4 linked regions of the Homo sapiens genome follow. The protein of the gene in region 4 interacts with the protein of the main gene of each other region in a pairwise test. Each region holds a gene or a part of one and is shown on either strand. Other genes may lie near its edges.

Region 1 (7,564 bases), on a different chromosome or scaffold from region 4:
GAGGATACTACCATAAAGGCTGGGGCACTTATTTGCTCCTTTCAACAAAAGATGAAAATAATAGATATGATCAGCATTGTGTCATCACTTCAGACTCTTGGCTTAAGACAGCATAAGACAAAAGAAAAAATAGAAAGAAGGTGTTAAAAGGAGAGTCAAACTGCACTCTTTAGGGAAAATTTTCATCTTACCACAGGGATGTAGTTTAGCACATGTAACTGAGCCAGCAATTAGGGCCATTTTAACATTTAGATTTTCTTTAATCAATTCCTTTTACAAGAGGTGATCTCATACGTAAACTGCAACATGGTTTGTTTGATATATCTCATGGACATCACATATTTATTAGAGACCCATAGGGGCAGGGTATTTCCCCAGAGAAAATTCTATTAGAAGATAAAATTGATTTTGCAAATTTTATTTTATATAGTTACCTATAAGAGAAAATATTTTTCTGTTTATTGTTTTTCTTATGTTACATCACTACTTGTTCATTTCATTCAGGTGCTAATCTTCTGCTTTGTAGCCTCTATTTTCCTTTCTCCCATCTGTCAACCTCAGATACTTTTATATTCCCATTACCACAGTCACACTTTAATTTCTGGTCCTGGCTACCTCTTCCCCCAAGTCTCATTTCCTGCCTCTCTTCTCTGAATGTGGCTAGATTTAAATGGAGGACTTCATTGGATAGATAGCCCTGAGCTCTTGAGCTTTTGTGACCATAAATATGACAACTTTTTTTTTTTTTTTTTGAGATGGAGTCTAGCTCTGTCGCCCAGGCTGGAGTGCAATGGCACGATCTCGGCTCACTGCAACCTCTGACTCCCAGGTTCAAGCGTTGCTCCTGCCTCAGCCTCCTGAGTAGCTGGGATTACAGGCATGCGCCACCATGCCCAGCTAATTTTTGTATTTTTAGTGGAGACAGGGTTTCACCATGTTAGCCAGGAGGGTCTCGATCTCCTGACATCATGATCCACCCGCCTCAGCCTCCCAAAGTGCTGGGATTACAAGCATGAGCCACCATACCCGGCCGACCTTTTTTTTTTTTTATCTTGCTCATTTTAATAACAAGTTATGATATAACTCTGGGAAGGTAAAAAAATTTCATAAATATGTAGATTGTCTTTCATGCCTTAGAATATGAAATCAATTCATGCTAATGGGTGTACTCTTTAAGATCTATGACTTTAGTGTAATTTTTAATTAATTTATTTTTGTTGTGTATATTCTCAGTGATGAGGCAGAAAGCTATACATCTCCCCCTTGTGGTTCCTGCTAACGTCTGCCTTTGGCATGTCCATTTTTTTCCCAGTTCCAGTAAGTCCCAATAAAATGCAGCTAAAATAATCTTTTTTATTTATTTATTTTTTAGGGACAGAGTCTCACTCTGTTGCCCAGGCGGGGGTGCAAGCAGCATGATCATAGCTCATTACAGCCTCAAACTCCTAGGCTCAAGAGATCTTCCCATCTCAGCCTCCTGAGTAGCTAGGACTGCAGGTGCACACCACCACACTAGGCTAATTTAAAAATTTTTTGAGGTCATCACTATGTTGCCCAAGCTGGTCTTGAACTCCTGGCTTCAAGCTACCCTCCTGCCTTGGCGTCCCAAAAGTGCTGGGATTACAGGTGTGAGCCACCACACCCAGCCTAAAATAATTTTAAACCACAACTCTGGCAACACTCTCCTGCTCAAACCTTCAGTTGCTCCCTACCACATGCAGAATAAAATCCAAACTCCTTGGCATGGTTCACCTGAAATTTCTATACAAAACAAAACAAAACTCTGCTTTTTGAAATTCTAAACATGCTTTAAGGCCCAAATTCCTCTTTCCTAATCCTCCCCCTGGGTGTAGTCTCATCATTTTGTGTTCTTATACCCCAATCTGCCAGTAATTATTAGTATTTGTGCTCATTTTATCTCTCAGACTAAATTGTAGCTGGGGAGTAGCAAAGGATTAAAAGTCAGTATTAGGCTTTAAAAACAGAGAAACCATTTAAAAATGGATGAAGAGAAAGAATTGGGCCAGGTGCAGTGGCTCACACCTGTAATCCCAGCACTTTGGAAGGCCGAGGCAGGTGGATCACTTGAGACCAGGAGTTCGAGACCACCCTGGCCAACATGGTGAAACCTCATCTCTACTAAAACTACAAAAAATTAGCCGGTTGTGGTGGTGTGCCCCGGTAGTCCCAGCTACTTGGGAGGCTGAGGCATGAGAATCGCTTGAACCTGGGAGGCAGAGGTTGCAGTGAGCCGAGACTATGCCAGTGCACTCCAGCCGAGGTGACACAGTGAGACTGCCTTAAAAGAGAGAGAGAGAAGAAAAAAAGACTAGCCCTGTCCAATAGGAATATGAGAGCTACATGTGTAATTTTTAATTTTCTAGTAGTCACATTAAAAAAGCAGGTGAAATTAATTTAATAATACATTTTTATTTAACCCAGTACGTCAAAAATTATTTCAACGTAATCATATAAATTTATTAATGAGATTCTTATATATTTTAATACTAAATCTTCCAAATCTGGTGTGCAGAATGTACTCACAGCACAATCTCAGTTCAACTTGCCATATTTAAAGTGCTTTATAGCCATAAGTGGCTAGTGCTACTGTATTAGAAAGAAATTGAGATAAGGATAGCAACAGAGTCCTAGCCCTGGCTGACTACTGAGTAGCTTTGTTACCATAGACAAGACCTTTAACCACTCACTTCTGTGGTTTCCTTATCTGAAAAGAGGAGACATATTTTTCTTACCAACCACATAGGATTGTAATAGCATAAAATTAGAAACTGAAATGAGGACACTTTTGAAAGGTTGAAAATGTCATACAAATGGGAGGTATTATAATTATTCTAAGAATAAGGTAAACTCTGATGGCTCTAGTTCTTGCAGTGTTTCTTAGCACACCTATGATTTTTAATAACAGTTGCAGATACTTACTAGAAGTTGAAATACTAAAGGTTACAACTTCAGTGCTTCCGTGGAAAAATAATTCCCATATTAGCAAACCCATTTAAACTGGTGTGCTTTGAAATGGTTATTAATCTCTTCTTTAAGGAATCTGGATCCCAGAGTCTCCCAGGCTCCCCAATCTTTCTTCCCTGACATGACAGCAATAAAGCAGGGCTGAGGGAGGATGTTGATGTTCCCATTGGGGTAGAGGAGTGTGATAAAGACGCATTGTTCAGAAACAGAGACAAACTTCGGAGATTCGTCTGCAAGTTAATTAGGTCGTTGCGAATAAATAAGATGCTTTCAATACAGAGAGAAAGGATGAGGCGGGGCAACAAGCACAAGCATTTTGAGACCCACAGGATTGGGAAATGATGCAGGAACAACTGACCTGGCCATTTTTCTTTCTTTCTTTCTTTTCTTGGAAGCACATATGTTTATTGGTTTTTTAATCTGTGAACCAATAGGTCATTTATAAATGGATGTGCAAATCTGAAATCAAAATATCTGCAGTCAATTCAATTAGATAATTTTTGAAATCTATTTATTTTTAATATACTTTAAGTTCTAGGGTACATGTGCACAACGTGCAGATTTGTTACCTATGTATAGATATGCCATGTTGGTGTGCTGCACACATTAACTCGTCATTTACATTAAGTATATCTCCTAATGCTATCCCTCCCCCCTCCCCCCACCCCACGACAGGCCCCGGTGTGTGGTGTTCCCCACCCTGTGTCCAAGTGTTCTCATTGTTCAATTCCCACCTATGAGTGAGAACATGCGGTGTTTGGTTTTCTGTCCTTGCGATAGTTTGCTCAGAATGACGGTTTCCAGCTTCATCCGTGTCCCTACAAAGGACATGAACTCATCCTTTTTTATGGCTGCATAGTATTCCATGGTATATATGTGCCACATTTTCTTAATCCAGTCTATCATTGATGGACATTTGCATTGGTTCCAAGTCTTTGGTATTCTGAATAGTGCCACAATAAACATACATGTGCATGTGTCTTTATAGCAGCATGATTTATAATCCTTTGGGTATATACCCAGTAATGGGATGGCTGATGACCTGGCCATTTTTCTATTTACATAGTGCTTGCCCGCCACTGAGGTGCTTCTGTGACACCTGAGAGAGATAGAAATACGTTCCTCGTTGCTATGTCCTCCAGAGGACTCTGGAATGACCAATTATTACTAATATTTTAAGTGTTTTTTTAGGAGATTTTCTGCAGCACTCTGAGTGTCTCTTCCCAAACACTTCGGTTACTGTTTATTCACCTGCTGAGATCTGGTCTCTTATTCACTCTCATTGCCTTAAGAAATGGTACAGAAATGTATTCATTAACATTTCAGATTTGTATATGCGGTAGCGAGAAATAATTCCCTTTCTTGTGTGTCGTGATTTGCCTTTCTTGTCAGCCTAAGCTCAGGAAGGTGTCTGTGAGAACTTCGCTCAGCCCAAGATCCCTTTCCCTTCCCGTCACATCTGTTAGCGCACAAGATTTCTTCGTCTGTCTCCAAAGGTTTCTGAAGCCCCACCCTTTGCCCACGCACGGTGCCAAGGAGACTGTGCCCTGCCTTGACAACAGTTGCTAAGGGGCGGAGACTTCGGCTCGGTTCCCGAGACGGAATACCCAGGAGTCGAGTACTTGGGCGCATGCGGCAACCGTATCTCAGTTCTCGCGAGGTTTCGTCTTCCCGGAAGCGTTGGAGGACATTCCCTGTTGACTGCGTCGCGATGTGTGGCGACTGTGTGGAGAAGGAATATCCCAACCGGGTGAGCGACTGGGCGCTCCCTTGGCCCGCGGGCGGCCCCCGAGGTGTCTCATATCCAAGGCTGGCCTTCCCAGAGAGGCCGTACGTGGGGCGGACTCGGCCGCACTGCCGGTCCCGGTGACCCAGTAGCGGTATTTAGGCACACCAGGGATGGCCTGTGGCGGTCTGCACCTCTGGTACCCGCCCTGGCGGCTGACCTCAGTTGTAGTGGCCGTTCTCTTGAGCTCCAAGGAGCAACAGAGGAACCCCACCACCACCACAACCCCCGTCGACAACCGAGGGACTCCCCCACCCCCACTTCCGGTCTCATCCTCAAGCTCGATTTGATGAAGTACAATTTTCTTACCGAATTCTAGCGCTGGAGGGGACCTCTGTGGTCATCTGTTCTAACACTTTTGCAGATGAAGAAACCGATGCCCAGAGAGGGGAAATCACTTGCCCAAGTTCACATTCTAGTTGCATGGATGAGAGCCAGGACTAGAATTTAGGTTTCCTGCCTGTTACCGCCTTCTGAATCTCAGTTACTTTCAGGTTCAGGAGTTTGCAAAGCTTGTCTATTCTCATTCATTCAAGGCATCCTTGTTGAACATTTATATATGTGTAGTTAGATTACTTTGCTAGGCCAGAAAGGGATTATTTCTCCTCTCTTTGAGACAGGGTGCTGCTGTTGCCCAGGCTGGTCTCAAATTCCTGGGATCAAGTGATCCTCCCGCCTTGGCCTCCGAAAGTGCTGGGATTACTGGCATGAGCCACCACGTCCAGCTGGATTATTTGTTTCAGAGAAGAAATTAAAAGGCACCTTTGGTGCTGCCTAACAGCTTACAGTTTTGGGGAGTATGTGACTAACAAAAAATGAGTAGCTCAGTTCAGAAATGCTATTCAAGTTTAGGGAAAGGGGAGGGCAATAGGGGATAGTGCTGTTCTCCCCTGAGAAAAGGTGGACATCATCTAAGACTTGAAGGACAGTTGTAATTAGGGTAGAAAAGAAGGTGAGGAGCTGGAGGATGGGGGAAAATTACAGAAATGGAATTTGTGCATTGGTTGGGAAGGAGGGAGAAAGTCTCTGTAGTTCCTTATGTCTTAGTATCTTATGGGTAATACTTAGGCTTTTGAGTAGCATGTATAACAGTATGAATTCTCCTGTAGTACAACTACTTTGAAAAAGCGGGTGAGCCTTATAAAATACAGACATGACCCAGTGATTCCCATTCTAGAAAAATGCATGTGTATATGCTTCTGAAGACTTTTATAAATAAGTGTTCATAACAGCATTATTTTTGTAGTAGATTGGAAAAGTAACTGATACATTCATTAGAATGGAACACCATTAATGAATGAGGAATGGAAGTGAATGAATTAGAGCAGTAGTTCTCTACCAGGAGTGATTTTTGGCTCTTAGGAGACATTTGGCAATATCCAGAGACATTTTTTGGGTGTCAAAAGGGGAAGTACTACTGACTGCTAATGGGTGATGCAAGGGATGCCGCTAAACATCCAGCAATACATGGGACAGCCACCACAACAAAGTATCACTCCCAATGTCAATAGTGTGGAGGTAGAGAAACCCTGAATTATAGCCGTGAAACCAAACTAGAATTACACAGCAGCCTGAAAAGTCTTACAAATAGTGTTGATGAAAGAACACATAAAGTATAATTCAAAAAGAGGCAAACCAAAATATATTATTCAAGGATGTACCTGGGTGGTAAAACTGTAAGGAACGTATACAATTACTGTTAAGTCGAGATAGTGGTTACTCCTAAGGGATTAGGGTGTGATCAAGAAGGGTCACATGAGAAAAAGTCTTCCCGGGTGCAAGCAGTGTTTTATTTCTTGATTTGGGTGGTGGTTCTACAGATGTACACTTTATAATCATTTCTTGTTCGCTACATTTATGTTTCATGTACTTTACTATGTACTATTTCATTTTTTTAAAGTTTAAAAAGATTTTTATGAAACCAGTAATAAACATGAGCTATTATGAGACCATGAGGGAGGAGTTTGCAGTAGAGAATATTAAAGAGATTAGGTTGGATTCTTTTTTGTTGTTGTTTTTGTTTTTGAGATGGAGTCTTGCTCTGTCGCCCAGGTTGGAGTGCAGTGGCATGATCTCGGCTCACTGCAAGCTCCGCCTCACTGGTTCATGCCATTCTCCTGCCTCAGCCTCCCGAGTAGCTCGGACTGCAGGTGCCCACCACCATGCCCAGCTAATTTTTTTGTATTTTTAGTAGAGACAGGGTTTCGCCTTGTTAGCCAGGATGGTCTCGATCTCCTGACCTCGTGATCCACCTGCCTCGGCCTCCCAAAGTGCTAGGATTACAGGCGTGAGCCACCGCGCCGGGCCTTAGGTTGGATTCTTAAGAGTGGAGTTATTGTAAAACTTAAAAGTCATATTGAGAAGTTTAGAGTTTACATTTTAGGCATTGGGCCACCATCAAAATTTTAATAGAGAAATGATTCTGAAATCTGTTATTTAGGAAAATGAATCTTATGGCTGAATGTTGAAATGGTGGGGTAGAGGGTGTGTAAAGACAGAACTCCACAGGGCATTTGAGGAGCCATGGCAACAGTGGTGTAGGCATGAGATAATGAAGACCTTATTTCAAAGAAAGAATTAGGTTGGGCACGGTTCTCACACCTGTAATCCCAGCACTTTGGGAGGCCAAGGCAGGTGGATCACTTGAGCCCAGGAGTTTGAGACCAGTCTCAAACATGGCAAAACCCTGTCTCTACAAAAAATACAAATAGTCTGGGCACGGTGGCTCACGCCTATAATCCCAGCACTTTGGGAGGCCAAGGCTGGCAGATCACCTGAGGTCAGGAGTTCGAG
Region 2 (7,024 bases), on a different chromosome or scaffold from region 4:
TGATAAGGGCTGCTTCTGGGAAGGGTGGCAGGCACACTGAACTGGGGATAGGGTTAAAGGAGGCTTTGGCTATATTTCTAATTGCTTTTCCTTTAAACAAATAACCAGAAGCAAAAAAAAAAAAAAAAAAAAAGATGTTAGCAAATGTTAATTCTCAGTTATAGAAAAATGGCTCTTAATTACATTATTATACTTTTGTTAACCATAAATTTCTTAGAAAAATAAAGGAAAAGGATTTCAAAGTGCTTAGTTTTGTGATACCTCATCCCCTACACCTACTTAGATAGGCAGGCCACAACATACGCAGAAGCTGTGTTCTCAAAGTTCATTGGTTTTTAGACCTTATTTGTTTTCCCATCAACACAATGTTATACCTAACTGTTAGGTTCCAAGGCCAGCTCTCCCATTATTTAATGTATAACCTAACAAATGTTAAGCCTAACAGTACCTCTCTCACCTTCTCTAATCATGAGGCAACTGATCACTCACGATATGGCAAAAAGGGAACCCAAGAGTTGAGTTTACCCCTGCTCCTGACAGGGCACAGGCTAGATGTTTCTTTTCTTTTCTTTCTTACTTTCTCTCCCCTCTCTGTCTTTCTTTCTTTCTTATAATAGAGATGGGCCTCACCATGTTGCACAGGCTGGTCTCAAATTCCTGGCTTCAAGCAGTCCTCCTGCCTCAGCCTCCCAAAGTGCTGGGATCACGGGCATGAGCCACGGTGCCCAGCCCAGGCTTGGTTGTTTCTTTTCTTTTTTCTTTTTTTTTTTTTTTTTGAGACAGAGTTTTGCTCTTGTCATGCAGGCTGGAGTGCAATAGCATGATCTCAGCTCACTGCAACCTCCACCTCTCAGGTTCAAGCGATTCTCCTGCCTCAGCCTCCTGAGTAGCTGGGACTACAGGTGCCTGCCACCAGGCCTGGCTAATTTTTGTATTTTTAGTAGAGATAGGGTTTGACCAAGTTGGCCAGGCTGGTCTCAACCTCAGGAGATTCGCGTGCCTCAGCCTCCCAAAGTGCAGAGATTACAGATATGAGCCATTGCACCCAGCCCCAGGCTAGGTGTTTCTGTGTACAGAATGTTTTCAAGTTTGCTGGTCAGGCTTTATACATACATACATACATACATACGTACATATACATACATACACTTATATGCACACATGTATATATATAAAATATATACATATATAATATACACATATATCTTTAAAATATATAATATAAACTAAGTATGTATCAACTTATAAACTATACACACATATATGATATAAACTAATATAGTAATGTGCCACATAAGGATGTTTTGGTCAAGAACGTACCCCATATTCCACGGCAGTCCCGTTAAGACTATGATGGAGCTGAAAAATCCCTACAGCCTAGTAACACAGCTTTCATGATGTTGTAGCACAAAGCATTACTCACATGCCTGTGGTGATGCTGGTGTAAATAAACCTACTGCACTGTCAGTGTTATAAAAGTATAACACATACAATTATGTACAGTACATAACACTTGATAATGATAATAAACAACTACATTACTAATTCACATGTTTACTATACTATATATTATTATTTTAGAGTGTAACTCTACTTATTTAAAAAATTAACTATAAAACAGCTTGAGGCAGGTCCTTCAGGAGGAATTCCTGAAGAACGCACTGTTATCCTAGGAGATGACAGCTCCATGCCTATCACTGTCCCCGAAGGCCTTCCAGTGGGATGAAATGTGGAGATGGAAGGCAGTGACACTGATGATCCTGACCCTGTCTAGGTCCAGGCTAATGTGTGCGTTTGTGTCTTGGTTTTTAACAAAGAAGTTTAAAAGGTAAAAAGAAAGTTAAAAAATTTAAAGTAGAAAACAGCTTACAGAATAAAAATATACAGAAAATATTTTTGTACAGCAGTACAATGTGCTTGTGTTTTAAACTGTTATTACAAAAGGGTCAAAAAGCTGTAAAAAAATTTTTTAAGTTCATGAAGTAAATAATTTACAGTAAGCTAGGTTTAATTTATTATTGAAAGAAAAAAGCGTATGAATAAATTTAGTGTAGCTTAAGCATACCGTGTTTATTTTTATTTTTCATAATGTCTGCTCAGTAACAAGTGTACAGTGTTTATAAAGTCTACAGTAGTGTACACTCATATCCTAGGGCTTCACATTCATTCACCACTCATTCACTCACTCACCCAGAGCAACTTCCAGGCCCACAAGCTCCATTCATGCTAAGTTCCCTAGATAGGTCTATCATTTTTTATCTTTTATAACATATTTTTACTTTACCTTTTCTATATTTACATATGTTTAGATACAAAAATATTTACCATTGTGTTCCAATTGCCTGCAGTATTTAGTACAGTAACATACTGTGTAGGTTTGTAGCCTGTAGCCTAGGAGCAACAAGCTATACCATATAGCCTAGGTGTGTAGTAGGCTATGCCATCTACATTTGTGTTAAGTACACTCTATGATGTTCACATGACAAGGAAATTTCCTACTGACAATGTATTTCTACTGTTAAGTGATACATAACTATATGTATATTAGTTTGTATTGTTCAGTAATGGAGAGATTGTGTTAGACTCTAGGGGCCAGGGATCAAGTAACTGTACTAGGGTCCCCAACACTTAGGTGCCATGGCAATAAATAAATGAAGAGCTAACCAAATGCCTGCATTCTGGACAGCTCTGTTTAAAAGGTATTTCATGGAGTTTTTCATTTAATCAATAGAAATCCAATCACTAGGCCAGGCATGGTACCTCACGCCTGTAATCCCAGCACTTTGGGAGGTGGAAGCGGGTGGATCATTTGAGGTCAGGAGTTTGAGACCAGCCTGGTCAACATGGTAAAACCCCACCTCTACTAAAATACAAAAATTAGCCGGGTGTGGTAGCACATGCCTGTAATCCCAGGTACTTGGGAGCCTGAGGCAGGAGAATCGCTTGAACCCAGGAGGCGGAGGTTACGGTGAGTGGAGATCGCACCACTGCACTCCAGCCTGGGCGACAAGAGCGAAACTCTGTCTCAAAAAAAATAAAAATAAAAAAAGAAAAAAAAAAAGAAATCCAATCAATAAAAGCAGAGAATAGTTTCCATTCAGTAAGTGGTAAACAACAACTAATGCATTTGGCACTTTCTCTTTCACAGCTTCTATCTAAAGCCAATCTCATGAGGCACCAACTTTCATACCAGGCACTATCACTTCTCTGCTTCCTATATCTCCCTCCTCTCCCAGAGACAGAATGTTTCAGAAAGTAGATTTGCTGCCTAAGATTCATGTCATTGAAGCTGCAGTAGAAGAGTCATTTAATATATGAAATATAAGGCAAGACTTTTCAAAAAAAATTCTCTCTCAGAAAATACAAGTCACTTTATATTCAAATACTTACAAAGTACCTCTTGCTGTAGGAAGTTTTGCAATTTCCTTATTTTGAATACAAAGTACCAGCTGGGGATGACACAATACCCTAAAACAACCTCAGTTAAGGCTGCTTTGGCTAATGGTAATCAGTGAAACAAGATAAATTAAACACAAATTTAGTAATTATCCCTGGAGATATAAACTCACACTTCCATGTGTAAACTGCCATTGTAAGGCCAGCTTTTTATTTTGTTTATTCATTTTTTACTTTTTTTAGAGATGGAGTCTCACCCTGTTGCCCAGGCTGTCTCGAATTTGTGGGCTCAAGCTATCCACCCACTTGGCCTTCCAAAGTGCCAGGATTACAGGCATCAGTCACCATGCCTGGCCAGTAGACCAACGTTTTAAAGATCATTTTAGCTGGGCGCGGTGGCTCATGCCTGTACTTTGGGAGTCCAAGGTGGGCGGATAGCTCGAGTTCGGGACCAGCCTGGGCAACACAGGGAAACCCTGTCTCTACAAAAAAATATAAAAAGTAGCCGAACATGGTAGCGCACGCCAGTAGTTCCAGCTAGTCAAGAGGCTGAGGTGGAAGGATCACTTGAGCCTGGAAAGTTGCTACAGTGAGCCATGATCATGCCACTGCACTCCAGCCTGGGAAACAGAGTGAGACCCTGTCTTTAAAAAAAAATAGAAATCATTTGAAAAAGTAATAAAGTGGTTAAGTTGCAGTGACCACAAATATATACCAACTGGAAACACTGCAAAAAAAAAATTCTAGGCTCACGTCTGTAATCCCAACACTTTGGTAGGCCAAGGCAGGCCTGTGAGGTCAAGGCTACAGTGAGTGGTGATTGCATCACCGCACTCCAGCCTGGGCGACAAAGTGAGACCCTTTCTTAAAAAAAAAGTCTAATGTTATGCAAGTGGATACTTGTAACTTGGAATAAACTGTTCAGTGGTAACACCTTATTCATATTCAAAAACGATGTATCTCAAGAACTGAACATGTGGTCCGGAAATCCACATTGGCTGACTCAAAAAGTGGCTCCAGTGATGATAAAAATAGTGAAGTCAAAGATGCATGTGAAGAGTCTGAAAAGAAACATTTTATAAATAAGAAGAGGAGGAAAACCAGCATTTCTAAATTAGTGTTACTTTATAAAGTAGGTGATTTTAAGTAGGTATATGGACCCAAATTTAAATGTAAATTTTGTAAGCAGGTATTTTTCACTTATATACCTAAAAGTACATGTATTTTCAACTTGACCAAAAACAACCTTTTGGACTTTTTAATGGGGAAATTTTGATATGCAGGATTACTTTACACTTGGGCAATATGGTATATGCTGAATTTCAATAAAATAAAATGGATTCAGAAAGCTAGCCTACTGACCACCTAACCAAGCAGAGCTCCAGTCCCTTCTATCAGAGGCATAAAAAGTTGGGAAGTTTTATCATATTTAGTGATTTGTTCCACCTCCATTTACTAATATTTTGGATCCTATAAGCTGAAATAAGTCAACAGCAGGTCAGGATTCTGTTCCGCTGGTCCCTCCTTAGGATATGTGGTGGCCCACTGCCCGAACCTGAAGCCAGCACATCACCTGCCTCTTAATACCCTGATAGGGGCCCACCCGCCCAGCTCACCTCATTTCCTACCACATCCAACCTGCACCCTCCGTTCCTGGTAAGCCATCTTAACGCCCCCAGTCAAGCCTGAGTCTTCCCTCAAAACAGCTCTCCCTCCTTGAATGGCTGCCCCAAACTCTATTTTTTACAGCCCACCCAGTTCCACGTTCTCCATGAAGTCATCCTGACCACCTCAGCCCACACAGATGGCTTTTCAACTCCCCAAAATCCTCGTGCAAAGCAGTTATAATTTAGCACTCTGTGACTGCCTATAGCATATTCTTCTTATTTTTTTCTTTTTTGAGATGGAGTCTTGCTCTGTCACCCAGGCTTGAGTGCAATGGTGCAATCTCGGCTCACTGCAACCTCCGCCTCCCAGGTTAAAGAGATTCACCTGCCTCAGTGTCCTGAGTAGCTGGTATTACAGGTGCACACCACCACGCCTAGCTAATTTTTGTATTTTTTTAGTAGAGATGAGGTTTCACCATGTTGGCTAGGCTGGTCTCAAACTCCTGACCTCCAGTGATCCGCCAGCCTCAGCCTCCCAAAGTGCTGGGATTACAGGAGTGAGCCACCGCACTCGGCCTTACAGCATATTCTTTTTTATCTCTCTAAGATAAAAGAATTTTGAGGGCAGGGATCAAGACTAATAATTCTCTTATATTCCCCTCAGAGTTCAAGTCACTTCATTGACAATGAACCATGCCAATGGTTCAATGACACCATGCCATTTAAAGTGGAGGACGCGTTTGCCTCTGTTCAAAGACAAACTCAAAGAAAAACAGTAGTATCTTTTGTAAACACCTGTTTTTGGCAAGGCTGCTACCTCTGAGACTATCAGTATTAACCTACTGGCCTGAATCAGAGTGTCTGCAATGGGATGATTCCAGATGGCACAATAAGGAAGGCAGGCACTAACAATACAACCATGTCTTGTTCTCTAGTGTCATGAAAGGCCCTCCCTGCATCTGCATTAACAAAACAGCTTAGCAAGGTAGAGACCTTCATAAAAATATCCAGAGCTGACCATTTCTCATTACCTCCACTACCGTCACTGTGAGCTAAGCCACCGTCACCTCTCTCCCAGGATACTGCAATAGCCTCCTAACTGGTTTCCCTGTATCCACCCTCACTCCCCACCATCTACTCTTGACAGTAACCTAAATGAGCCTGTTAAAATGCTAGTCAGACTGTGTCACTCCCCTGCTCAAAACTCTCTGATCATGGATCAGTCTAAGTCCTGGCAGGAAACAGATGGCACAAAGTGGGTGATTTGAGGAGAGTTTATAAAGGAACTATTTACAAAGATGTGGGCAGGTGTAGGGAAACCACAAGAGAAAATGCAGTATCTGGAGCTGGTAAATCAGGGGTACCTGAACTCCTCATAGACCTGAAGGTGTGAAGGATGGAGAGGGAGGGAGACAAAGAGCTCCGCAGAGAAGGCACATGACAGGAAATGTGACCTTAAGTCTAAGGAAACCCCACCCCACACAAGCCTGCAGGAGGGAAGAAATACAGTGGTCTCATTCTTCTCCTTCTCGGTCACCCCCAGCAATACTTCCCATGGCCCGCAGCCATAAAGCAAGGCAACCTGTCAGTGCAGGGCCCCCTCCTGGGGCACATCTACAGAGCAGGCTAGAAAAGGGCCAAGTGAATCTGGGGCAGTAAATGGCAGGTATACAGCCAAGTGGCTCTCCATCTCAGTCAGGGTATTTTAAAGTACTTCCAAAGGCCAATGAGACCCTACATGATCCGACCCATCTCCTACTCTCTGGTTTGCTAAGCCCCCTGCTCACCTGGCATTCTGCTGCCTTGGTCCTTTGTGCTTGCTGCTTTCTCTGCCCAGAATACTCTTGCACCAGATCCATGATGGCTTCCTCCCTCATCTGAGACTTCAGGTCTCAGATCACATGTGTTGTCACCAGAGGGTTCCCCTTAACACCTTATATGAAGACCTCCCCTGCTCCCACCCCACCCATTCCTGACACACCCTATCCCCTCTATCCCAAGGTGTTACTCTCCACAGCGTT
Region 3 (8,005 bases), on a different chromosome or scaffold from region 4:
CTGGGGGAAAATATAACTAGAATGCCATTTTTCCTAAGTTCCTTTGTTTGGAAGTTTTTAAAAGAGTTAAAACAAGCTTCACGGTTTATTAGATATTATTTTCTGTAGTGTTTGAAAATGTTATGGGGTAAAAAAAGGGCATGTGTTTTTAATGCCCTGAACATTTTCTTTTTCAAACAAAAGTCATCCTTCTTGTGTCTCGGTCCCCGTTGTTCTTCTTCCCATTCTGCCCCTTTGCTCAGCTTCATCTATAAAAATCATTTGTGTAATCTCTATTGGCCCCACGCTGTACATTCAGGATGCCTTATGTAGTTCCAGGCCTCCAGGATTATATTTCTTATAACACCAATCACTCTTCATTTTCCTTTGGATGTTATTTTCTTTGGGCAAAATTACTTTTCCTTTGTGTAAAAATGTTTTAAGAAAATATTTTCCATATCTGCAAAAAGCATGTAGTTGATGCACTAGTTTTACAGTTCTTAAAGCAACTCCTCAAATATTCAGACTTGAGGGGGAATTAAACAACACTTTTTGTATGGAGGAAAGCATACCAAAGTAGGTTTCTGAAGCTTCTGGGATTGCAATTTTTAAAATTCTTTGCCTTTTCTACAAAACTAAACTTGTTTTATCTAATCTTATTTGCATTATCATATCTTTCAGAGGTTTTAAGATATAGTGTCATAATCCTAAAGAAAAACATTTGCCTTGTATTTTATTCTAGTTCCTTGTTTGACTAAGTCACAAGGACACCATTGTTTAAATTTGCATGCCTCATAAAAATATATATTTGTGTAAATTATACTTACAAAGCATCTCCAGATATATCTCATTAACCACTACACAAATTATAGGTTACAAAAAGGTTACAGTCAGAGAGGCAGAACTACTTCTTAGGAAAGTATGAGATATGGGAAGCTTGTACAATATAATCCTTCCCAAACTTCACCCTATAATTTTTATCTAAGTGAAAATTGGTTAAAATGAACATTAGGGTAGTTTTTAGCTTGGATAAATCCTGTTGGGAAAAAAAAACTATATCCATCTATTCTTTGAATATTTATTGAGCATCTACTACATCAGTCTGAATGCTATGTCCACATATGCATTTGAAGCATGAATGAGAAAAGTGGGAGACTCCTTTGGTAAAGCAGGGAGAAGGAATGCAGGCTAATTCTGAGCTCTGCGCTCTTTTAGTCTCTCCTATCAGCTGACTGAGGTACCTATTTCTTTTAAAATGTTCCCTGCCTCTGATTCACTACCTAGCCATCTACTGCCCTCAATCACCAGACACCACGTAAGTCCTGAGGATAGATTTGTTTCAAGAATAAGACAAAAAGTATTTCAATGGTGATCTACAGAAAAACCATTTTAATTTCTGTGATAAGAAAAAAAAAACCGGAAATGTGGCACAAGTATGTTTGTTCTGTACTTCTATAGTAGAAAATTTATATACTTTGCACATGGCAGAACAGGACAGGCTTATCTAAACAATAAGGGATAGTGAGTTGATTAGGTGATTGGAAACAGGCTTCAGCTTTGCAACTGCACATCAGTGGGCCTTGTATGTTCAAAGCATTCCGCATCTAAAGAAGCAAACGATGCTTTCCATCTGTGATAACAAGGAAATGCTAAAGTTCCAATTTCCTTGACATTTTATTGCATTTACTTTTATCTAAAATGAGTATATAACATTATCTTATATAAAAGGAAAGCATGGTAGACGAGACATATCTTGAAAATCTTCTCTCTACCAGACATCCAGAAATGCTAAAAAAAAATATGTAACAACCCCATTTAAATGCATAGGCAAGCTTGCCAAAACTAAGAGAAATCAAGAAAAAAACAGAGGGAATCCTAAATCAGAGTGATAAACTGGCATTTAAAGTTTAGCTGAGTTCAGCATTTGCTAATCTCAGTAACCTAGAGATCTGGCTTTTAAGATCTGTTGCAAGCCAGGAAACAAAATCAAAGGCTGTCCTAATATGAGCCGGGGGCTCTTGAACTGCTATACCTTCAGTGAAACAGCAGACAGAAAAAAAACAAGTCACCTACAAAAATTGATGACAGGAACATGTCTATTTCAGCATAAAACCAGGTCTGTAATTTAAATTTACCCTACCTGTGTGGTCCAGGAGACCCAAGCTAAGAAAATAACAAAGCAGTCTTGTGTTAGAGAAGTGCCTGGGCTGCCTGACAGAGCCAGTGCAAATCCTCTTCAAAGGGACGTGCCCTTAACCCCATCCTTAGAGAATTTCACAGATCAAACAATGTGAAAGTACAAAAGAGCTAATAGACTCATCTCAGTGCAAATTAAACAACTGTGGAGTGTCTCCTTTTTTTTTTCCGGGAAAAGAACACTTTCCTATGTTAATGTTACCCCAAATACACTGGTGGAAACAATAAGATTTGAATGAATTCCCCAGAATTTAGTCAGGAAGGACAAGACAATCCACCAAGTGCTCAGAAGAAAATAGAAACCAAGTAGGACCACTGGTTTTTTCAATTACATGCTGGAGATCTGAAACCTGAGAGCACTGCCGACTTTCTGGAAGGGCCAAGAGAATGGATTTAAAGCAGCTACCAAAAGGGAACTAAGAATGATTGGGAGTTAGTGACTAAACTTTATAGCATAACAGGACCATGATTATAATTAAAGACATCTTTAAAGCAAATCATCTGAATAAATGCACACAGAATTGGTAACTAACTTTAATTGCTACTGAGGTTTATTTTATGCTAACAATAGTGTTCAATGCTCAGTAATCTCTTCCTAATTTTTGTTGTCGGTATATTTTGGGTTCACACAAGTCAGAAACCAAAGTTAGATTGTTTCTAATTGGCAGCAAACCAGAGGGGACGGGAGACTGGTCAAGTCTCTGAGTCGTCCACTCCAAGATGCGGACAATGAGTGTATGAAGACAGACTGAGAATGCGCTGCAAAGAAGCTTGGAAGAAAATGAAGGCAGAGAGGACAGACCTGAAAGGCTAAGAGGGACAGATCAGCGTCCATGGAAAGCAGGAGCAGAAGCCAGTCTTCTTCCAAACACTGGCACAAACCACTGCCTACTGGATACATTTCACCAGACAATTCACCCCAGTGTCCAAGAGTTTATCTTGCTTCTAGAATATATTGAAAAGAGCCACCCTCTGAACAAATGGCAAACACTATATAGTATAAATAGGATGCACTGAAAATAGTAGGCTTATTTCTTAAGCTGTCATCACGAACATTAACCAGTAATTATATTTCTCCACTTTTTGTAGAAGACATAAATGGCAAATTCTGAATTTATAATTTCTAATACTTCATTTTTCTGCTCTTGTAAAGTTCATTTTGAACTTTCAACATAAAAATATTAAAGATTTTTAATTGTGCACATTTGAACTTGTGTTACTTTGGACTTACATTGGCTGAAATTGAAATATAGTAAAAGTGCTCTAGAGTAAGCAGATCAGTTCATCAGAAGGACAGCCTTTCAATGGAAAGGGCATTCCCAAGCTGCACCAACGAAAGCATAATCCTGTTACCTGCCCTAACCTGACAGCTCTGAATTAGTCTGATCCACCTATGTGCCGTACAAAGCATTATATTGCTATGATTTCATAAACTGAACTTGAACTACACTTTTTCAGAGAAACAAAACCATGTTTAGAAATCTGCCACAAATATCTACACATTGCTCTTGAATTCCTCCAGGAATTTCCACCTACTCGTGCTGTTACTCTTCACTCTATGATTTATTTGTTTTTCAGTCCCTGTCGATACTTAAGTTTTACTCTGTAGGGAGATTCTCATGTTTGACTCCATTAAACAAGCTTTGAAACTGACACTCGCACAGGGTGTTACTTCCAGAATCTTCCTGCCAGCTCCTTGCATCCACACCATGAGAAAGAGCAAACATTCCAAATCCCAAAAAAATGAATTATTTGGGGTGAGGAAAAGTCTTGACTATGACACTGAAGATTTCCTGAAGAGATCCAGCATCCAAAATGTCCTGAGTGGGGAGGAAATCGCACACCTAGCACCCAGAGAAAATGAGTGCTATCCACAAACAACCCAGATCCTCCCAAGCTGAGGCTAACCTGCCCTTCACTTCCTACATTATTGCTACATCTACGCAGCTTCTGACTTTCCAAAGTTTCCTTTCCTTTTCTAGTCCCAAACTTATCTCTCAGGTTTGAGAAATTCAATTTTCTTGGGTTTGAATCTCAAAATTATAAAAGACAAGTAAGGTTAATCTTCTATCTCATTGGGCCCCTAAATATTTTAAGAAACACTCCATCAACCACATTTTGATCTTCTTTACTGCTGTTTTATTCTAGCATTTCTTTACTCCTACCTCTCTGTTTCTCTCTCTCTCTCTCCCCCCAAACCCCCCAACTCCCCCACCCCTCCCCACACACACACACAATTGGAGTAAATCCAGGACAAGGGCATTCACAATCTTACCATATTCTGTATTCATTAGACCTTATCTTAAGCACTGTGTTCAATTCAGATTTTGAAGGCATGTTAACAAACTGTAGAACAACGGAGTCCAGAACTGCTGTAGAGGACCAGTTGAAGGAACTAGAGAGGTATAACTAGAAAAGATACTTTTTTAGATCCTTCAGTTGTTAAAAGTCCCTAGTAATCTATTACAAACAGATTGATTTTAATAGTTCTCAACCATTTGCTAACATGTGTTTGCAGTGATGTCCTATGTGTTTGTACTCAGTTCTCTGTCTTTTTTAAAAGGGAATTTTACTTTAGACTATACATTTTCTAAAACTAGAAAAATTATTTTGGAGAAAAAGATTTGAGTATTACTTTGAAGATTTCATGAAGCTGCTGCTTCCAATCATCTGATCACTTCAGATGGTCTGATAATGTTAGATAAAACCTCTTTATCAGTAATGCACTGGAGTCCTACAGCACTACTTTCCATATTCAACAAAACCTCTCTTTGCATAGATACGTGTGTGTAAAAACAGAACATTCATACTGAGGCCAGAGTGCCATCGAAGGTAATTATAGAGACAGTAAAATCCTTTTACTCTGGGAAAAATAAAATGCTGGGTGTCTCACAAAATTTCAGAACCTGATTTCAAACGGATCATAACAAAGAGGAGATCAAATTTAGCATGGTGGACTGCTCGACAGGATATATTTGTAAGTATGAGATTCTATAAAATAGTTGATAAATACAAGACTATTGGCTTGCTATAAATCACTAGCAGATGCTGATTTCAATGGTAGAACTTCTGGGAGTGTTAACAGAGGTTTTTCTAAGAAAAAAAGACAAACTAACAAACACATATTCTTTTGCCTGGCTTTCTATATTTAAAACAAAACTTAGAGTCACTCCTTATATAAATAAATCTTCTAAGTTGGGCAACAGAGGAAATGCTACAGTTTTAAAGTATATTATTTCATTTTATGTTTTTGTGTATATTTTCATTTTAAATGTTTTTCATTTTATATGTTTAGATAAAAACATATTATAAAATCAGACATAGCTGAATTATTTGTTTCAAAAATCATGCATTACCAAATTATTAGTTCCATCCTTTGTTAACTGTACTGAAGCCAGGTGTGGATTATTATAAGGTTTATCTGAAACATTGTTAATCTTGATTTTGTAGAATTTTTTTATTCTTTTATGTTATGCTTAAGCACAACTATGCACAAATTTCTTGAATTTTTTAAAGGACAAGAAATTTGTGTGCTGTGGTCAACAAAAGCTCACTAAAATATAAATTGCTCCAAATTTTACTAAATTTTATGTAACATGCTATATCATAAAATAAAGAAACATATTTAAATGCAGATATATGTAAACAGACAGAATTGCTTTAAGAAAATTTATTTATTTTCATAATACTTTAAGATTTCATTTAAATAATGGAGGAAACAAATCTAATTCTGGCATACTACTAATACAACTCAATCCATTACCAATGCATTTATAATCACTCTGAGAATTAGATTCTATCGGTGAAATGTATTTCTTTCAAATAATTATCAGGAGAAAACAGTGGAGGCAAAATCATCGTGGAGACCTAAACTTGTTCTAAACACTCTATGTTTCGATTGTAAAAGTACACACTAGTTTTACCAAGAGGGTATTGAAAAACAAAAAAGGAAAGCAAATTAATACACAATATTAAGATAAATATAGATTATTTAAATAAAAAGTAATGGAAAATTACAAATTAAAACAGTAAAGAAATTTTTATAATAAGCCATGATATTAACACAATTTTAGATAAAGAGTTAATAAATAAAAATGGGAATAACCATAATCCAGCATTTCCGAGGTGGAAAAAGTATTTACTTAAAACTTAAGAGCATTTACAGTAATCTTTGCCAAATATGCATTCTCCAGGAAGCACACAATAATCTTTTTGTTTTTGTTTGGTTTTGTTATTATTTTATTTTTAGGTCAATGGAATGTTTCCACATATTATACCACCAACATGAGAAAAAAATGATCATTGTTTATTTGAAGCTTGGTGAGTTTATCCACAATTTAAATCAGTTCTACGTCATGCCAATTTAGATCACTGTTTCACTGGGAATTCTCTTTTTGCCAAAGTAGATTTGTAGTTCTATAAAATATTTAAAGTTATTTTTTATTTTTATCCATATTGACTACTTGAACTCTAATTTTAAGGGTACAACTAAAGATGCCCTTGGTTGGATTTAACTAACAAAATAAATTTATCAATAGGATGTTTTAATCAAATCCTTATCCTAAAGAACTTTACTTTTGTAAAAAATTAGAACATTCCCTTTATGGAATTACCAAGGATATTTCTTAGAAGTTCTCAATTGTAAATGTGAGAGGATTTCATTCTGCCACTCTATATTGGTGCTATTAAACTGTCGATTGAGATGTATTATTTAATGATAAATATTGTTGAATGTAGGATTGTAGATACTTCTTTTTAAACCAATGGTTATTTTGCAAATTCTTTGTCCTCAGACTGTGAATTATATTTTCTTATTTTATCAGATGATATTCTAACGCTGCCTTTTCTCTTCTCATTTTAGAGGTATGAGAATTTTAATTTCTACTTCTGAGCATCTGCCTTCCATCTTCCAAAATTACTTTGGAATATTTTGTCATTATTTTTCCCCTTGGTTAATCTCCTTTTTCCTTCAGTTTAAGCCGTACATGTTCCTTTACTATAATATTATTAGTGTTTGGGTTGGAAGAGATAATAAACTCAGGTGGTCAATCTGACCTTTTGTACCTGAAGCTGGGTTAAGTATTTTTTAATTTATCTCTTTGTTTCAATGTAGAGAGTGTTATAAGGATGGGGGTGGGGGGTTCTGTGATATTCCAACAAAATAGTGGTACATGGTACGTGTGAATCCAGTAGTAATCAATAGAGAGAAACACAAACATGTGGATGGACTTTCAGTCCCAGAAATCTTAGAATACAGGCGGGAAGGCACCAGGCTCCAGGCACAGGAGCAGAACTCTAGTCACTGGAACAGCGTCCAGTCTCCAGTTCCATTTCCTAAAGGACAGGAATACCAGAGAACTTCTTATAGTCTATTTATTCTATGCATAACAACTCTTAGGGTCTATTTATTCTATGCATAACACATGTCATACACAATTCTGTCACTAAATATTTTCTGCAATTTAATCATTGATGCTTTTATGACATTATATTCTATTTGTATTCCATAATTTAATAAATCTGTAAATGTTTGACTTAGAATGCTAACCAACATATAAACAACTACTTATATGTAATCATCAAATAACATTCGAATGTAACAATTTAGGAAACTTAAAGTCTAGTAGGAGTAGATAAATCAGAAATATAAATAACATTATATCTATATATATTGCTTCTTTTTCAATGTCACCTAACTAATAAGTTGCTTGGACCAAAGAACCCTCACTGAATCAGTCATGTAGCTGAGCACAGGGCTACTATTAGTGTACACAGAGTCTTTGCTGGAATTATTAAAAAGTAGCCTTTTCACCACATGGATGAAGCCCCA
Region 4 (7,024 bases):
AAAACTACTGGTTCCATGGAAAAAAGAAACACATAAGAGGGGCATGTGGAAGGACAAATGTGAATCACCCCAGCCTTGGTCAAGGAATGGGGAAGGAAAATTAAGTCCTGAGGTATGTTTTCAGCCTTGTTCAGAGAAAGCACAGCACTGCTGCAGAGGAGGGGCAGTGGGGAAATGTTAAAACCCCACTCAAGATAAAGAACTTGGGAACAATGGCGGGAGAGTTCTGGGAAAAGTAGGAGAAAGAGAAGACAAGGTGGTGGGCAGGGGATGAGCGTCCCAGATGTGTAGAAGTGAGTAGGAGGGTGGAGGGGGCCATATTGCATCATACATCCTCCACTCTAATGACCTCGAATCTGGTTACTCTGGGGTGTGTCTTTGCTTCTATCAGGAGTTGCACATTGAGAGTTGAGATAAATTATTATTCATGTCCTGAATGCTCTCCTTGCTCTTGGTCAGCTTTACTTGACCCTTCAAGCAGATGGGATTAGTCCTTCATGGAAGAAGTTTGGGACAAAGAGACCTAGGCCCCTCTTCCTCCAACATTTTACAGGATGAAGTACGAAGGGATCTTTGCCAGGCCAGTTGGCTTTGACCTTCAAGGCAGAGCTGCATCAGGGTGAGAGCAAAGCCTGCTGCTTGGGGCATTTTCTCATGCAAGGTGCCATTTGTGCATTTCCTTCAGGGTGAGCCGAGGAGGCCTGGTGATAACAGATGCCCTGGCCCAAAGAAGAACATCAGAGCTGGAGGGAGGCCTGGAGAGGATCTGGGCCACCTCCTTTATGATTCAGTGGGGGGCCTCAAGCCCAGAGAGAAAAGAGGACACTCCCAAAGGAACATGCAAGGTAAAGATGGAGCATTGGGTGGGCTCTGAGTCCTAAACTTGGTGCTTTCTGCCTTTCCTCTCACCTGTCAGTTGATGTCAGGGCCTCCTCATTGAAGTATATGTATGTCCATAAATGTATTTATCTTTAAATCTCTCTTTCCACACACACACGCACACAATTCCTCAGTGGGAAAGATTAGAAACTAAATATACCATCGAGCATATGTTTTAAGTGTTAATGAATTAATAAATTTAGGCACAATTATCTATTAATCCACAGGTGTAAATCAGTTAACAGAGCAGAAGGTCACCAGGGCTTGCAATGGGGAAGGGGTGGGATGAAGGCAAGCGGGGTGGCCCTGACAAAGAACCCCAGACATAAAAGATGCCATAGGTTAGCCCACCCTGATCTCTGTGTTTCCTCAAGGTATGCTAGACAAAAAGAAACAGCAAATAGATATGTAGCTGCAAAGATCAACAACGCCACTGTGTATGAACTGTAAAGTTTTTGGTTTTAGCATGGTTGATAACTAACAGAAGCTTGACTTCATGTGTTTCTTAATTAAACCAAGCGTCTCACATGTGAACACCTCTGCTCCAGTGAATCCTGTATCAGCTGGTGATGTCTACTGGCATTGGATAACATTTCAGTCCAGTTCCATGACATATTACACATAGAGTTCGTCTAATTCACTCAGCAAATATTTGTTACTTGCACACATTGTGCAGGGGGCCGGTGGTGCTACGTCTGCTGATTTACAGACAACTGGGCTTAAATTCATTAATTTGTTAACACCAAATGGCTTCCTTCCTTGGTGATATATGAGCTGAAGAAATGGAGTTCCTGTCTTCAAGACAGTTGCAGAGATGAGGCCCCAGAGTGGAGCAATTTTTGTCTTTGGAGTCCTATTGCCCAAAGCCATGCGCCTGACTTAATCTTGACTTGCTCTCCAAAATATTTACTTTAGCTCCATGAAGTATTTTTTTCCCTAGGGGAACAGATTTTCATATGCATAATGGAGACCAGCGGTAAGATAAGGCCCACTTAACAGCTAATCCTATCAGAGCACATGTATTCCTTATCGTGAGGATGCCTGCAGCATTTCAACAGAATCAGCCCTCTCCCTGGGGACTACACCCTTTGGATTACCTTTGCAAACCAACACCAGCCTCACTTTCTCTCTCCGCCTGGTTGTCCATCAGCCTCTGTGGCAGCAAATCTGTGTCCCCAGGAGTCAAATGATTTTCTGGTCAGGAATGTAGAAAAACAACGTTACTGCACATATGATGAAACCTTATGAAATTCAGGTGTGGAGGGATTTTGGATTATGTACTATCAAAATAACAACCACATAGCATACTAAATATTTGCAAACTATTATTTGAAAATTGTATGTTGAGGTGTAGCTTACATACAATAAATGCATACAGTGAAATAGTCAGTTCAATACATTTTTACCTCTATATTGGAGGGTAGCAGTATACACCATCCCAAAATATGCCACTTTGGCATAAGGATTATTTTGAGCCAAATGTAATTGAGAAGAAGTGGGTACAAGAAAAGTTCTCCACCCTCCCTCTATTTGCCTAAAAGCAAGACATAAATTGACAAAGGTAAAGCTGTCCCTTGTCTCCTCACTAACAAGAAGGATAAAGTTTGATCACCAAAGATGACATTGACTTACTTTCCCACAAGTTGCTCCTGCTGGAGACTCAAAACCCTTTTCCATTGTCTTGCTACTTCTCTAAAAATGTACTGTTCATTGTTGGAGATGTATTGAAGCTGGAATTCAAAGCTACCTCTTTGAGAATTATTTAATCCCTGGATCTCTCCCATGTCCATATGAAATAGACATGTTAATACGCTTCTGCTTGGTTTTCTCTCGTTAATGTGTCTTGGGTTACAGGAGTCTGTTCCAGCTAAGAACTTATGAGGGTTGAGAAAAAAATTACTTTTCCTCCCATACATAGCCAAGGGCTGGTAACAACTCAAATACATCAATCAACAGAAGAATAAACAAACAAATTATAGTTTTTTTATATAGTTAAATATTACATAGCAATAACAATTTTGAAAACTACTGATACCCAAACAACATGGAATAATTTCACAGACATTATTATTGAGTGAAAGAAATCAAACAAATGGCTCCATTTATATGAAACTCAATAATATGCAAATGAATTGGTTGTAGAAGTCAGAATCGAGGTTTCTTCTCGGGTAGTGCGATTATTGACTGGGAGGAGGAAGTACAAGGAAATCTCCTTTTCTCCATCTTGACCTGGGTAAGTGATTCCTTAGATGGATATTATAAGAGAGGAAAAAATAATTTTCCCTCTGCCCTTCTAAGTTCTCAGCTAGGATCCTTGTAACCCAAGACAGATTCATAAGAGAAAAACAAACAGGAGTGGATTAATATGTACCTCTTAAGTGTATGTAGGAGACACCAGGGAATAAATAATTCTCAAAGGAGTGGCTTGGAACTCCCTGCTTATATAGCCACCTTCAACAAAGAACTATACAATTTTAGAGAAGGGACAAGATGAAGAAAAAAGACTTTGCATCTTGAGGGCCACCAAATTGTGGGTAGACAAATAAATAGGAAATGAAGGATAGAAAGAAACTAGTCAGTAAGTTTTGTTACGCAGCTTCCTCTGGTACCATCTCCAGGCCTATAAGGGTCTAAAGTTCTCAGTGGTTAACCTTTATTCTCCTTGATAGAAAGACCTTTGTAAATTTAGATCTTGCTTTTAGGCAAATAGAGAGAGGACAGAGAACCTTCCTGCATCTGCTGCTTCTTAATTGCCTTCGCCTCAATAATCCCTATGCCAAAGAGGCATATCTGGGGGTAGCTTATTCTGTTCTCTCACAATTATGACCACATAGACTGTAATGATTAAAGGATCATTTTCACCAAACAAAGCAGTAATTTACAAGGCCCCTTTGTACAAATTGTATTCCCAAGAACATAATATGTTGTGATATTGTGATTTATAATTATATATAGATATATAATTACATATACGTGTGTATATATATGTGTGTGTATGTGTGTGTGTGTATATATACATATATATATATATAGAGAGAGAGAGAGAGAGAGTTCTTATCCCCATTTCTGGCACAGGGCTCTTAAAACCCTTGGAATTTCCTGAGCGATGAGAGCAGTAAAGGTGAAAAGAGCATCTTTTCTTAACCATAACCGACCCCTTTTAGCCACACCCGAGTTTATGTTAATGAGGTGACTTTAGAAAGCCTCCAAGGATGGGGGGCTGCTTGTCTGGGGAAACAACCATGTGATTTGAGGGTTGGAATATTCAGCCCTACCCCTTGAGTTCCAGGAGAGGAGAGAGACGGGAGATTGAGTTAACCACAAATGGCCCATAGTTTCTTTAATCCATCATGCCTGTGTAAGGAAGCCTCCATAGAAACCCAAAAGGACAGGGTTCAGAGAGCTTCTGGGTTGGTGAACACATGGAGGTACCTGGAGGGTGGTGTGCCCAGAGAGGGCATGGGAACTCCATGTCTCTTCCCCCATATCTTGCCCTGTGCATCAATTCCGTCTGGCCATTCTTGAGTTGGATCCTTTATAATAAACTAGTCATTGTAAATAAGTGTTTCCCTGAGTTTTGCAAGCTGTTCTAGCAAATTATTGAAACTGAGGAGGGAGTTGTGGAAACCTTCCATGTGTCACCAAGTTGGACAAAAGTTGTGGGCAACCTGGGGACCCACCACTTACAACTGGTGTCTGAAGTAGGGGCAGTCTTATGGGACTGAGCCCTTAACCTGGGGGATCTGATAGTATCTCCAAGGAGATAGTGTCAGAATTGAGTTAAACTGTAGGATGCCAAGTTTGTTCTCATAAAGAAGTGGAGAATTGCTTGGTGTAGGGAAAAAAACTCACATATTTTGGTGACCAGAAGAAGGTAAATTGGTGTGAGTATTGAGGGTAGTAGTAGAGTTCAGCCTCCTTCCTTCACCTCTCTCGCACACGCCCTCTTGCCCTTCTGCCTTCTGCCTTCTGTCATGGGATAACACAGCAAGAAGGTCCTTGCCACGTATCTCAAAATAATAAGAGCTATCTATGACAAACCCACAGCCAATATCATACTGAATGGGCAAAAACTGGAAGCATTCCCTTTGAAAACTGGCACAAGACAGGGATGCCCTCTCTCACCACTCCTATTCAACATAGCGTTGGAAGTTCTTGCCAGGGCAATCAGGCAGGAGAAAGAAATAAAGGGCATTCAATTAGGAAAAGAGGAAGTCAAATTGTCCCTGTTTGCAGATGACATGATTGTATATCTAGAAAACCCCATTGTCTCAGCCCAAAATCTCCTTAAGCTGATAGGCAACTTCAGCAAAGTCTCGGGATACAAAATCAATGTGCAAAAATCACAAGCATTCTTACACACCAATAACAGACAAACAGAGAGCCAAATCATGAGTGAACTCCCATTCACAATTGCTTCAAAGAGAATAAAATACCTAGGAATCCAACTTACAAGGGATGTGAAGGACTTCTTCAAGGAGAACTACAAACCACTGCTCAATGAAACAAAAGAGGATACAAACAAATGGAAGAACATTCCATGCTCATGGGTAGGAAGAATCAATATCATGAAAATGGCCATACTGCCCAAGGTAATTTATAGATTCAATGCCATCCCCATCAAGCTACCAATGACTTTCTTCACAGAATTGGAAAAAACTACTTTAAAGTTCATATGGAACCAAAAAAGAGCCCACATTGCCAAGTCAATCCTAAGCCAAAAGAACAAAGCTGGAGACATCACGCTACCTGACTTCAAACTATACTACAAGGCTACAGTAACCAAAACAGCATGGTACTGGTACCAAAACAGAGATATAGACCAATGGAACAGAACAGAGCCCTCAGAAATAATGCCGCATATCTACAACTATCTGATCTTTGACAAACCTGACAAAAACAAGAAATGGGGAAATGATTCCCTGTTTAATAAATGGTGCTGGGAAAACTGGCTAGCCACACGCAGAAAGCTGAAACTGGATCCCTTCCTTACACCTTATACAAAAATTAATTCAAGATGGATTAAAGACTTAAATGTTAGACCTAAAACCATAAAAACCCTAGAAGAAAACCTAGGCAATATCATTCAGGACATAGGCATGGGCAAGGACTTCATGTCTAAAACACCAAAAGCAACGGCAACAAAAGCCAAAATTGACAAAGGGATCTCATTAAACTAAAGAGTTTCTGCACAGCAAAAGAAACTACCATCAGAGCGAACAGGCAACCTACAGAATGGGAGAAAATTTTTGCAATCTACTCATCTGACAAAGGGCTAATATCCAGAATCTACATGAACTCAAACAAATTTACAAGAAAAAAACAAACAACTCCATCAAAAAGTGGGCGAAGGATATGAACAGACACTTCTCAAAACAAGACATTTATGCAGCCAAAAGACACATGAAAAAATGCTCATCATCACTGGCCATCAGAGAAATGCAAATCAAAACCACAATGAGATACCATCTCACACCAGTTAGAATGGCGATCATTAAAAAGTCAGCAAACAACAGGTGCTGGAGAGGATGTGGAGAAATAGGAACACTTTTACACTGTTGGTTGGACTGTAAACTAGCTCAACCATTGTGGAAGTCAGTGTGGCGATTCCTCAGGGATCTAGAACTAGAAATACCATTTGACCCAGCCATCCCATTACTGGGTATATACTCAAAGGATTATAAAACATGCTTCTATAAAAACACATGCACACATATGTTTATTGCGGCACTATTCACAATAGCAAAGACTTGGAACCAAGCCAAATGTCCAACAATGCTAGACTGGATTAAGAAAATGTGGCACATATACACCATGGAATACTATGCAGCCATAAAAAAGGATGAGTTCGTGTCCTTTGTAGGGACATGGATGAAGCTGGAAACCATCATTCTCAGCAAACTATCGCAAGGACAAAAAACCAAACACCGCATGTTCTCACTCCTAGGTGGGAATTGAACAATGAGAACACATGGACACAGGAAGGGGAACGTCACACACCGGGGCCTGTTGTGGGGTGGGGGGAGTGGGGAGGGATAGCATTAGGAGTTATACCTAATGTTAAATGATGAGTTAATGGGTGCAGCACACCAACATGGCACATGTATACATTTCTCCGGGTGAAATTATCCTGGATTCAGGGTGG

What was found.
Region 1: the proteins of APOL6 (region 4) and CHURC1-FNTB interact in binary tests that used the Homo sapiens proteins (3 or more experiments, as listed by UniProt).
Region 2: the proteins of APOL6 (region 4) and FNTB interact in binary tests that used the Homo sapiens proteins (3 or more experiments, as listed by UniProt).
Region 3: the proteins of APOL6 (region 4) and RGS13 interact in binary tests that used the Homo sapiens proteins (3 or more experiments, as listed by UniProt).

What each region holds. Positions count from the first base shown.
Region 1 is NC_000014.9:64,909,800-64,917,363, forward strand, and holds the start of CHURC1-FNTB (CHURC1-FNTB protein), read left to right. Parts: upstream 1-4,561; 5' UTR 4,562-4,615; coding exon 4,616-4,735; intron 4,736-7,564. Other genes in the region: CHURC1 (protein Churchill), read left to right, coding at 4,697-4,735. UniProt on the Homo sapiens protein: Essential subunit of the farnesyltransferase complex. Catalyzes the transfer of a farnesyl moiety from farnesyl diphosphate to a cysteine at the fourth position from the C-terminus of several proteins having the C-terminal sequence Cys-aliphatic-aliphatic-X.
Region 2 is NC_000014.9:64,989,876-64,996,899, reverse strand, and holds part of FNTB (protein farnesyltransferase subunit beta), read right to left. Parts: intron 1-7,024. UniProt on the Homo sapiens protein: Essential subunit of the farnesyltransferase complex. Catalyzes the transfer of a farnesyl moiety from farnesyl diphosphate to a cysteine at the fourth position from the C-terminus of several proteins having the C-terminal sequence Cys-aliphatic-aliphatic-X.
Region 3 is NC_000001.11:192,631,166-192,639,170, forward strand, and holds the start of RGS13 (regulator of G-protein signaling 13), read left to right. Parts: upstream 1-4,981; 5' UTR 4,982-5,152; intron 5,153-6,424; 5' UTR 6,425-6,495; intron 6,496-6,998; 5' UTR 6,999-7,038; intron 7,039-8,005. UniProt on the Homo sapiens protein: Inhibits signal transduction by increasing the GTPase activity of G protein alpha subunits thereby driving them into their inactive GDP-bound form. Binds to both G(i)-alpha and G(q)-alpha.
Region 4 is NC_000022.11:35,651,428-35,658,451, reverse strand, and holds part of APOL6 (apolipoprotein L6), read right to left. Parts: intron 4,849-7,024; exon of another isoform or gene 4,732-4,848; intron 2,074-4,731; 5' UTR 2,027-2,073; coding exon 1,977-2,026; intron 1-1,976. UniProt on the Homo sapiens protein: May affect the movement of lipids in the cytoplasm or allow the binding of lipids to organelles.